Linked DNA regions of Homo sapiens: region 2 is linked to region 1. Evidence: fine-mapped expression QTL. Tissue or cell type: whole blood. Region 1 holds a variant in brackets; the other region holds the start of a gene. All regions are shown on one strand. Distances are from middle to middle.

Region 1 (4,399 bases):
TATAAATGTACTAGTTTTAAGTTTCACTATCATAAAGCTGCAGTGATACACATCTTGGTACATATATGTACACATACACAAGTATGTTGTTAGAATATATGCTGGATTAAAGAATCTGCACACATATTTGGAGAAAGTTATGGGAGAAATGCAAGAGGCCTTGAGGGTGCCTGAAGCCGTAGGATCATCTTTAGTAATAAGGATCATCTTTTGTTCCCCAGGTACTCTGAAGGGCAATTCCACCAGAATGTACATTCCATGACATCTGGGACTTTGATGCATTGCCCCAGACGATAATACCAGTACCTACAGCATGTTCACCTAAGCACTGGTCAAGTGGATATTCCTCAACCAGAATGCAAACATTTCCATTGGTTTTAGAAAGCCCTGAAACAAGCTTCTCTTTGAGATTTCTGAGTTATCTGGGAGATTGCTGTGGGCTCTTGAATTTCCATTCCATTTCCTTTCCTAAGACACCAACTTGAGCACCTCCAAACACCCCCATGACTTAGGTCCCTTTGAGACTCAAACCACTTACCAGTCCCAAAAGAGTTTAAAGATTCTGAAATTCAGAATTGCATTTTAGAAGTGACCAGAGATGGCCAGGCGCCGTGGCTCATGCCTGTAATCCCAGCACTTTGAGAGGCCAAGGCGGGCGGATCACGAGGTCAGGAGATCGAGAATATCCTGGCTAACACGGTGAAACCCCATCTCTACTAAAAAAAAAAAAAAAAAAAAAAAAATTAGCCGGATGTGGTGGCTGGCGCCTGTAGCCCCAGTTACTCGGGAGACTGAGGCAGGAGAATGGCATGAACCCGGGAGGCGGAGCTTACAGTGAGCCGAGATCGCGCCTGTGCACTCCAGCCTGGGCACAGAGCAAGACTCCGTCTCAAACAAAAAAAAAAAAAGAAAAAAGAAAAAAAAAAGAAGTGACCAGAGGTAAGCTCCACTGTACCAAAAAAGGAACGACATCCTTTGAAGCTAAATTAAACTAGATGGTTTCCTGAAGAATGAGACTGGGTGCGGTGGCTCAGGCATGTAATCCCAGGACTTTGGGAGGCCGAGGCAGGCAGATCATTTGAGGTCAGGAGTTCAAGACCAGCCTGGCCAACATGGTGAAACCCCATATGTACTAAAAATACAAAAAAATTAACCAGGCATAGTGGTGGGCGACTGTAATCCCAGCTACTCAGGAGGCTAAGGCGGGAGAATCCCTTGAACCCGGGAGGCGGACGTTGCAGTGAGCTGAGATACCCCCACTGCACTCCCGCCTGGGTGAAAGAGCAAGACTCTGTCTCAAAAATAATACCAGTAATAATAATAAATCAATAAAAATCAGGTAAATGGAGCTGGGCAGAATGGTGCATGCCTAGAGTCCCTGCAACTCGGGAGGCTGAGGCAGAAGGATCACTCGAGCCCAGGAGTTCAAGGCTGTTGCCTGCTATAATTATACTTGTGAATGGCTACTGTACTGCAGCCTGGGCAACATAGCAAGACCCTCTTCTCTAAATAAAATAAAATAAATAAAATTAAAAAATCAGGTGAATGGTTAATTCCAAAAGTGAAGGGGTTGTGAAAATCAAAAGAGAGATACAGGGTTTCTGGAATGTTGGCAACGTTTTCTTATCCTTAGTAGTGATTATATGGATTATATAGTAGTGATTATATGGATTCATTTTATAAGTATTTAAATTTACGTATATACCTCATAAACTTTCTGCATGTTTATCTCACAGTGTTAAAATGCTTAATTAATTAACTGTAGAAAATTGATACAATCATCATAAGCATACATGCATCCAATATACAATCTTGAACTATATCAAA[C/T]AAACAGGAAAAAATACATAAATCACCAATTGTAGTTGGAAATGTTTTAACATGCATCTCTAAGAACTGTAGATCACATAGAACTGAAAATAGTATGGATATGAATGAGCTGAAATGAAAAACATTTTTAAAAATATGTAGAACCAAAATAAACAGGCACTCTTTTTGAATATACATATAACACTTACAACAATAGACCATGTATTAGGCCATAAAGGAAGCATCAATAAATTCCAAAGATCCAATCCCATTCAGACAATGTTCTCCTACTACAATGCATTCTGAAATTAACATTTGTAAAAACAATTGCTAAAATAAAATCCCACTTACTTGGAAAATAAATAACATATTACTAGATCAGACTCAGCTTATAAAACACTTAGAAGTGAATGAAACACTACATGACAGAATTTGTGTACTACAAATAAAGCAGTATTTAAAGGCAAACTTACAGTTTTAAATACACTAATAATTAAGAGAGATTAAAATCAAATGAGCTGCCACAGGAGACACAACCTCACACCCTTCAGGATAGCTACTATCAATAACACACACATACACACACACACACACACACACACTCAGAGAGAGAGAGAGAATAAGTGTTAGTGAAGATGTGGAGAAATTGAAGCATTTCTGCACTATTGGTGGGAATGTAAAATGATACAGCTGCTATGGAAAACAGTATGGCAGTCACTTAAATAGCTAAAAATAGAATTACCATATAATCCAGCAATTCCACTTCTGGTATATACCCAAAGGAATTGAAAGCAGAAACTCAAATAGAAATTCGTACACTTATGTTCATAGCAGCATCGTTCATAATAGCTAAAAGGTCAGAACAACCCAAATGTCTATCGATGGATGATGGCTAAACAAAATATTCCGTTTTAATAATATTCCATTGTAGTATTCACATACAATAGCATATTATTTATCCTTTTTAAAAAGGAATGAAATTATGGTACATGATACAACATGGATGAACCTTAAGAACATTGTGCTGGCCGGGTGCAGTGGCTCACGCCTGTAATCCCAGCACTTTGGGAGGCCGAGGTGAGTGGATCACCTGAGGTCAGGAGTTCGAAACCAGCCTGGACAACATAGCCAAACCCGTCTCTACTAAAAATACAAATATTAGCCGTGCGTGGTGGTGGGCGTCTGTAATCCCAGCTACTGGGGAGGTTGAGGCAGGAGAATCGCTTGAACCCGGGAGGCGGAGGTTACAGTGAGCTGAGATCGCACCATTGCACTCCAGCCTGGGAGAAAAAGCCAGACTCTGTCTCAAAAAAAAAAAAAATTGTGCTAAGGGAAATAAAGGAGTCACAAAAAGACAGCTACTGTGTGATTCCACTTTTATGAGATACCTAGAGTAGTCAAATTTATAGAGACGGAAAGCAGAATGGCAGTTGCCAGGGATTAGAGATAGAGGGAGGTGGAGAGTTATTAGTTAATGGGTATAGAGTTTCAGTTTTGAAAGATGAAGAGTTCCTGGAGATAGATAGTGGTGATGGTTGCATAACAGTGTGAATGTACCTACCACCACTGAGCTGAACATTTTAAAATGGTTCATATGCCAAATTTTGTTTTCTGTGTATTTTACCACAATTAAAATTTTTTATGGAAAACAAAAACAAACGTTCTGGCTTCCAGATTCCTATAGAATAACGCCAGTTACCTAAATTTGAATCTCTCCACACATCCTATAAACAAACAAAACTAAGGAGAACGAATAAAACCATCCATGGCTACAATATAATTTACAGACAGAGAAAATTATAAACCCCATTTTATATAAAAGCAGGTATATACATCCAAAACCAGCAGATCCAGTTACAGAGCCATGCTCTAGAAGAGAAGCCAAGATGGCACAGAAAGGCTAAACCACCACCAGAAAAAGAGTCCCATCTTGAGTGGAGAAATACTGACAATACGTCCGAGATCTGGTAGATGAAAGAACTGAGACAGATTTTAAAAGGGGGTGAAATTGTTTGAGACTGGCCATGGCAATGTTGCAAAGGCAAGAGGAAAGGCAGGAGGAAAGAGGCGACTTGAAGGGAAGGTACCCCTTCAGGGCTTGATGGTGAAGAAAAAGGAAGCAAGCAATGAGTAAGAGTCCCAGGCTGGGTGCGGTGGCTCACTGCTGTAAACCAACATTATGGGATGCTGAGGAGGACGGATATCTTAAGGTCAGGAACTCGAGACCAGCCTGGGCAACATGGCAAGATGCCTGTCTCTACAAAAATATTAAAATTAAATAAAATAATAAAATTAAATAAATACAAAATTTAGCCAGGCGAGGTAGCGCGCACCTGTGGTCCCAGCTACTCAGGAGGAAGCTGAGGCAGGAGGATTGCTTGAGGCAGAGGTTCCAGTGAGCTGAGACGGCGCCACTGCACTCCAGTCTCGGAGAGAGAGATAGACCCTGTCTCAAAAAGAAAAAGAAAAAGAAAAGAAAATTAAGAGTCCCACAGAAATGAAAGAGAATTACAAAATCACAAGGCATCAGTCGGTGCTCCACTCTAAAAAAGGGCTATTTCGGGGAAAAATGCATTTTGTTCTACCAACAAAA
Region 2 (4,399 bases), 49 kb after region 1:
TTCCAGTAGGCATCTTACATTCTAAGAACTATGAAAATAGTTTTCCTGAAAAAGACAAGGGAAGCAGCAGCAGCATTCTCCTTTCCCCACACCCATATACACGCCTGTGCCCTGTAACTGAAGTGTGAGAGGCACAGTGTCATAAATGGGTAGATAGTAAGTGGGGACTAAAACTGTCAAGGGTGATCTAATTGGGGTGGGCTCATAGTAGTACTTCTGTGTGAATGCTTTGGTGGACCCTTAAGGTACTACATGGACCAGCCTGGGCAACATGATGAGACCCTGTCTCTACAGATTAAAAAAAAAAATTTTTTTTTTTTTTTAAATTAGCTGAGTATGGTGGTGTGTGCCTGTAGTCAGGAGGCTGAGGTGGGAGGATCACTTGAGCTTGGGAGGTCGAAGCTGCAGTGATCACACCACGGCACTTCAGCCTGGATGACAGAGACCCTGTCTCAAAAAAAAAAAAAAGGTACTACATGGAGATAAGCTTGAAGTTACTGTAAAAAAGCTACCTTTACTCTTGCCCTAAGTTATTTATTCTGATACGTCCTATGTACAAGTCAGTCAGTTCAGTCCTCATATCTACTAAAAGCTACCTTTATGCCCAAGGTGCTAGATGAGAAGACAGGGCCCCTGCCCTGGTAGAGCTGAGTTGGGCCTGGTCTCAAAATCCCGACTAGAGCCTGCTTTGTTTGCTCCTTGAAGGTGTTAGCCCAGCTCTCTTTTATCTGCCCCTTCCCCAGGCTTTGGAGGAGAAGATACGGACCACGGAGACACAGGTGCTTGTGGCATCTGCACAGAAGAAGCTGCTAGAGGAAAGACTAAAGCTTGTCTCAGAACTGTGGGATGCTGGGATCAAGGTATGGGAGGCAAGCCCCAGGGTGGCAGCAAACTTAGGTGTGCTGGACACAAACTGAATAAAAGCTCACCCATAATGGATCCTGCCATTACTTCTCAAAAGTAGAGCTAAGAACAGGGTGCCAGCTTGGACACCCTCTGTCCCTGAGGACAGCAGAAGCCAGCCTTCATCTTCTGCTCTTGTCCCCTGCAGGCTGAGCTGCTGTACAAGAAGAACCCAAAGCTACTGAACCAGTTACAGTACTGTGAGGAGGCAGGCATCCCACTGGTGGCTATCATCGGCGAGCAGGAACTCAAGGATGGGGTCATCAAGCTCCGTTCAGTGACGAGCAGGGAAGAGGTGAGGGAGGTGGGCAGGAAGGCTAAGGGACAGAGAATGTATGCCATTTTGGCAGGCCCATGCCCATTCAAGACCTGAGAAAAAGCCTGGCATTGATATTAGTACAACTCATAAAAGCCTTGAGGGCTTAACCTGTTACTGTGGTCTTAGTAGGGTGAGATCTCCATCCCTGCATATACCTTATGGTTTGTTGGCTCCCCCAAGAGGCACACTCTAGCCTGAGGTGTTTAATTAGGTTCCTGCTCCCAGCTGAGACAAGCCTGATGCCTAGAGGGCTAGAGGAAACTAGGCACTCGGGGAGCAGTGGAATGGAAGATGCTTATACCACCTTCTTCTCCCATCCTGGCCAGGTGGATGTCCGAAGAGAAGACCTTGTGGAGGAAATCAAAAGGAGAACAGGCCAGCCCCTCTGCATCTGCTGAACTGAACAAACTATCAGAGGAAAGGAAGTGGGACTGGCACTATTTGAGGTTAAGACAAACTGCATATGTACTTCAATTGCTTTGCACTTTTCCGTTTCAGCGGAAGACCTGAAGAGTGGTCAGAACAGAGCCTTTGATTTTTATTATGGTTATTTTATTGATTATTACTGGCAAAAACGGCCAGGTACAACACCTTTTTCATACAAGGCCCAGGAGGCTTAGTCCAGTCTGTGCTCCTGGGCTACAAGGACCCAGCCTGAGATGGTCCCATCTGCAGGGCCCCGCACCAGTTGGAGCAGATGCCTCCCCACCACCAATTGCCAAAGGTCCAATAAAATGCCTCAACCACGGAGTCTGCGTGTGTCAGTGATGCCTAGCCCCGCCTTCCCCAGCAGACCAATGTAGGGATGGAAAAGGGAGAAAAACAGTAAACTTGTGACCCTGAGGTTCTTGTCTCCAGCGTCCACCCTGCGGCTTGGGAGCTCCTCCTCGGGAGGCAGCCCCCGTACATACGCACCCGCGACTTTGCAGCTTTCACCTGAAGGTCTGAGCGAAGCCCGGGCGGCGCACGTGCAGTGGATACCTCCACCCCCCTGGGAGGCGGGGTCGCGCTCAGAGCCAATGAGAGCTTGCGGGGTGGAGGGGTAGGGAAGCTTCCAGAGGCCGGTGGGGAGGAAGTTATAAAGAGGGTACGAGGGGGCCAGCTGGAGAGCCATGCAGTCCAAGCGGGATTGTGAGGTAAGCGGCTGGCGACTTGGGGGCCGGCGAGCCCCGCCGGAGCGGGGGTCGGCTTTAGGGACCCCAGTACCACAGGAGAGGTGGGGGCGCGCTTGGCGATCCGCCATTCCAACCTTCCTTTCCCTCTCAGCTGTGGTGTGAGAGGGTGAATCCAGAGAACAAGGCGGCGCTGGAGGCGTGGGTCAGGGAGACAGGCATCCGCCTGGTGCAGGTGAACGGGCAGAGGAAGTATGGCGGGCCACCCCCAGGTACGGTAGTCCCAGCCCCTCCGCCTGTCCGGCTACACCAGCCCCCTTTGGGGGAGGGGCTGCTCCGAGCCTTCACTGTCAGAAACTGCGAACTACCCGGATTTATACCCCCCAGCAAAGGAGGAACTGTGGCTCCACGTCCACCCGCCCCGTCGAGGGAGGGGGCCAATCTCAAGGTGTACCTACTCTGTGCCAGCCCCCTTGTTAGCGCAGTCACCTAATTATGCCAACCACCCAGGGTACGGGTGTAAACCCATTTCACAGACCTTTGTTCACATCGCCTCCCACCCCCGCGCGCTGGGTCCGTGGGCTCAGAATTCGAAAGCGTCGCCTGACGGTGGCCTTGCATACCCTCTTCCCACAGGCTGGGTGGGCAGCCCGCCGCCAGCTGGGTCAGAGGTGTTCATCGGGCGGCTGCCTCAGGACGTGTACGAGCACCAGCTTATCCCGCTGTTCCAGCGCGTGGGCCGCCTCTACGAGTTCCGCCTGATGATGACCTTCAGCGGCCTGAACCGCGGCTTCGCCTATGCCCGCTACAGCTCGAGGCGCGGCGCGCAGGCCGCCATCGCCACGCTGCACAACCATCCGCTGCGGCCGTCCTGCCCGCTGCTCGTGTGCCGCAGCACCGAGAAGTGTGAGCTGAGCGTTGACGGCCTGCCGCCGAATCTGACCCGCAGCGCGCTGCTGCTCGCGCTGCAGCCGCTGGGTCCCGGCTTGCAGGAGGCGCGGCTGCTGCCCAGCCCCGGACCGGCGCCCGGGCAGATCGCTCTGCTCAAATTCAGCTCGCACCGGGCCGCTGCCATGGCCAAAAAGGCCCTGGTGGAAGGTAGGCTGGGGCGGGGGTGCTGGTTGGGGCCAAACGCGTTCTGCCCGGCACTTTATACTGAGCATAGCTGTTAAAGTTACAAGATCTTAGAGTCAAACATGCCAGAATTTGCAACCTTTTACTATTTGATCTCAGATTTTTAAAACTTCCAATGGTGCTACCACCACCGCTTACCTAAATTTGTGACACTTCCCGAGCATTACCTCCTGACTTAATTCTCAACCTTCCCCCACCCCCACACCGCAAAATAGGCACAGGACCCTCAAGCTATGAGGAAACTGTTAGAGAAATTGATTTGCTCAAGGGAATCCAACTGAGCTTTTTACTACTATAGAATCTGTTTCCTCAGACTGTTATGAGAATTAAGTAACATAATGGGTGTACGGTACTTAGCACACTGACTGACTTACAGCAAGTTTTCCCAGTAAAGATTAGCCATTATGATGGTTATGAGGCAGACAAAGCCTGCAATTAACCAGTACTTCTCCAAGGAAACTTGTAAGGTAGCAGTGTGTTATACTCCCTTTGCAAATAATGGAGGCTGAAGGCTTCATTGTCTTTTCTTACCCATGGTCACACTACCAGGAAATGGGAAGGCTACAAATAACAGGACTGTGTAGCTCCAAAGGGCTCACCACCTGGAGGCTTGGGCCCAGGGTTTAGACCTGCCCTTGTCTTTGCATTTTTCCTACAGGGCAGTCACACCTCTGTGGAGAGCAGGTGGCTGTGGAGTGGCTCAAGCCAGACCTGAAGCAGCGACTTCGCCAGCAGCTTGTGGGTCCCTTCTTGCGGTCCCCACAGCCAGAGGGCAGCCAGTTGGCTTTGGCAAGGGACAAGTTAGGGTTCCAAGGGGCTCGGGCTACCCTGCAGTTGCTGTGCCAACGAATGAAGCTGGGCAGCCCTGTGTTCCTCACCAAGTGTTTGGGCATAGGACCTGCTGGCTGGCACCGCTTCTGGTACCAGGTGG

Evidence for each region. PIP is the estimated chance that this variant, and not a neighbour inherited with it, causes the effect.
Region 2: it holds the start of DND1, and the variant in region 1 is fine-mapped to the expression of DND1 in whole blood (TOPMed, PIP 0.93).

What each region holds. Positions count from the first base shown.
Region 1 is chr5:140,720,383-140,724,781 of GRCh38, reverse strand. All of the region lies in intron 1 of LOC105378198 (a long non-coding RNA gene), which reads right to left. Among named protein-coding and RNA genes, the nearest start is that of ZMAT2, 22 kb to the right of the region's middle. The variant C/T (reference allele first, on the strand shown) is at 1,828.
Region 2 is chr5:140,671,478-140,675,876 of GRCh38, reverse strand. DND1 (DND microRNA-mediated repression inhibitor 1) reads left to right here and starts at 2,301. Exons shown (of 4, transcript NM_194249.3): 1 at 2,301-2,358; 2 at 2,489-2,606; 3 at 2,971-3,432; 4 at 4,127-4,399. The coding sequence starts at 2,335. WDR55 (WD repeat domain 55) reads right to left here. Exons shown (of 7, transcript NM_017706.5): 7 at 3,532-4,399. It overlaps HARS1 (histidyl-tRNA synthetase 1), which reads left to right. Exons shown (of 13, transcript NM_002109.6): 11 at 744-860; 12 at 1,052-1,198; 13 at 1,549-1,972. The coding sequence ends at 1,620. RefSeq lists enhancers at 1,836-2,631, 2,632-3,427.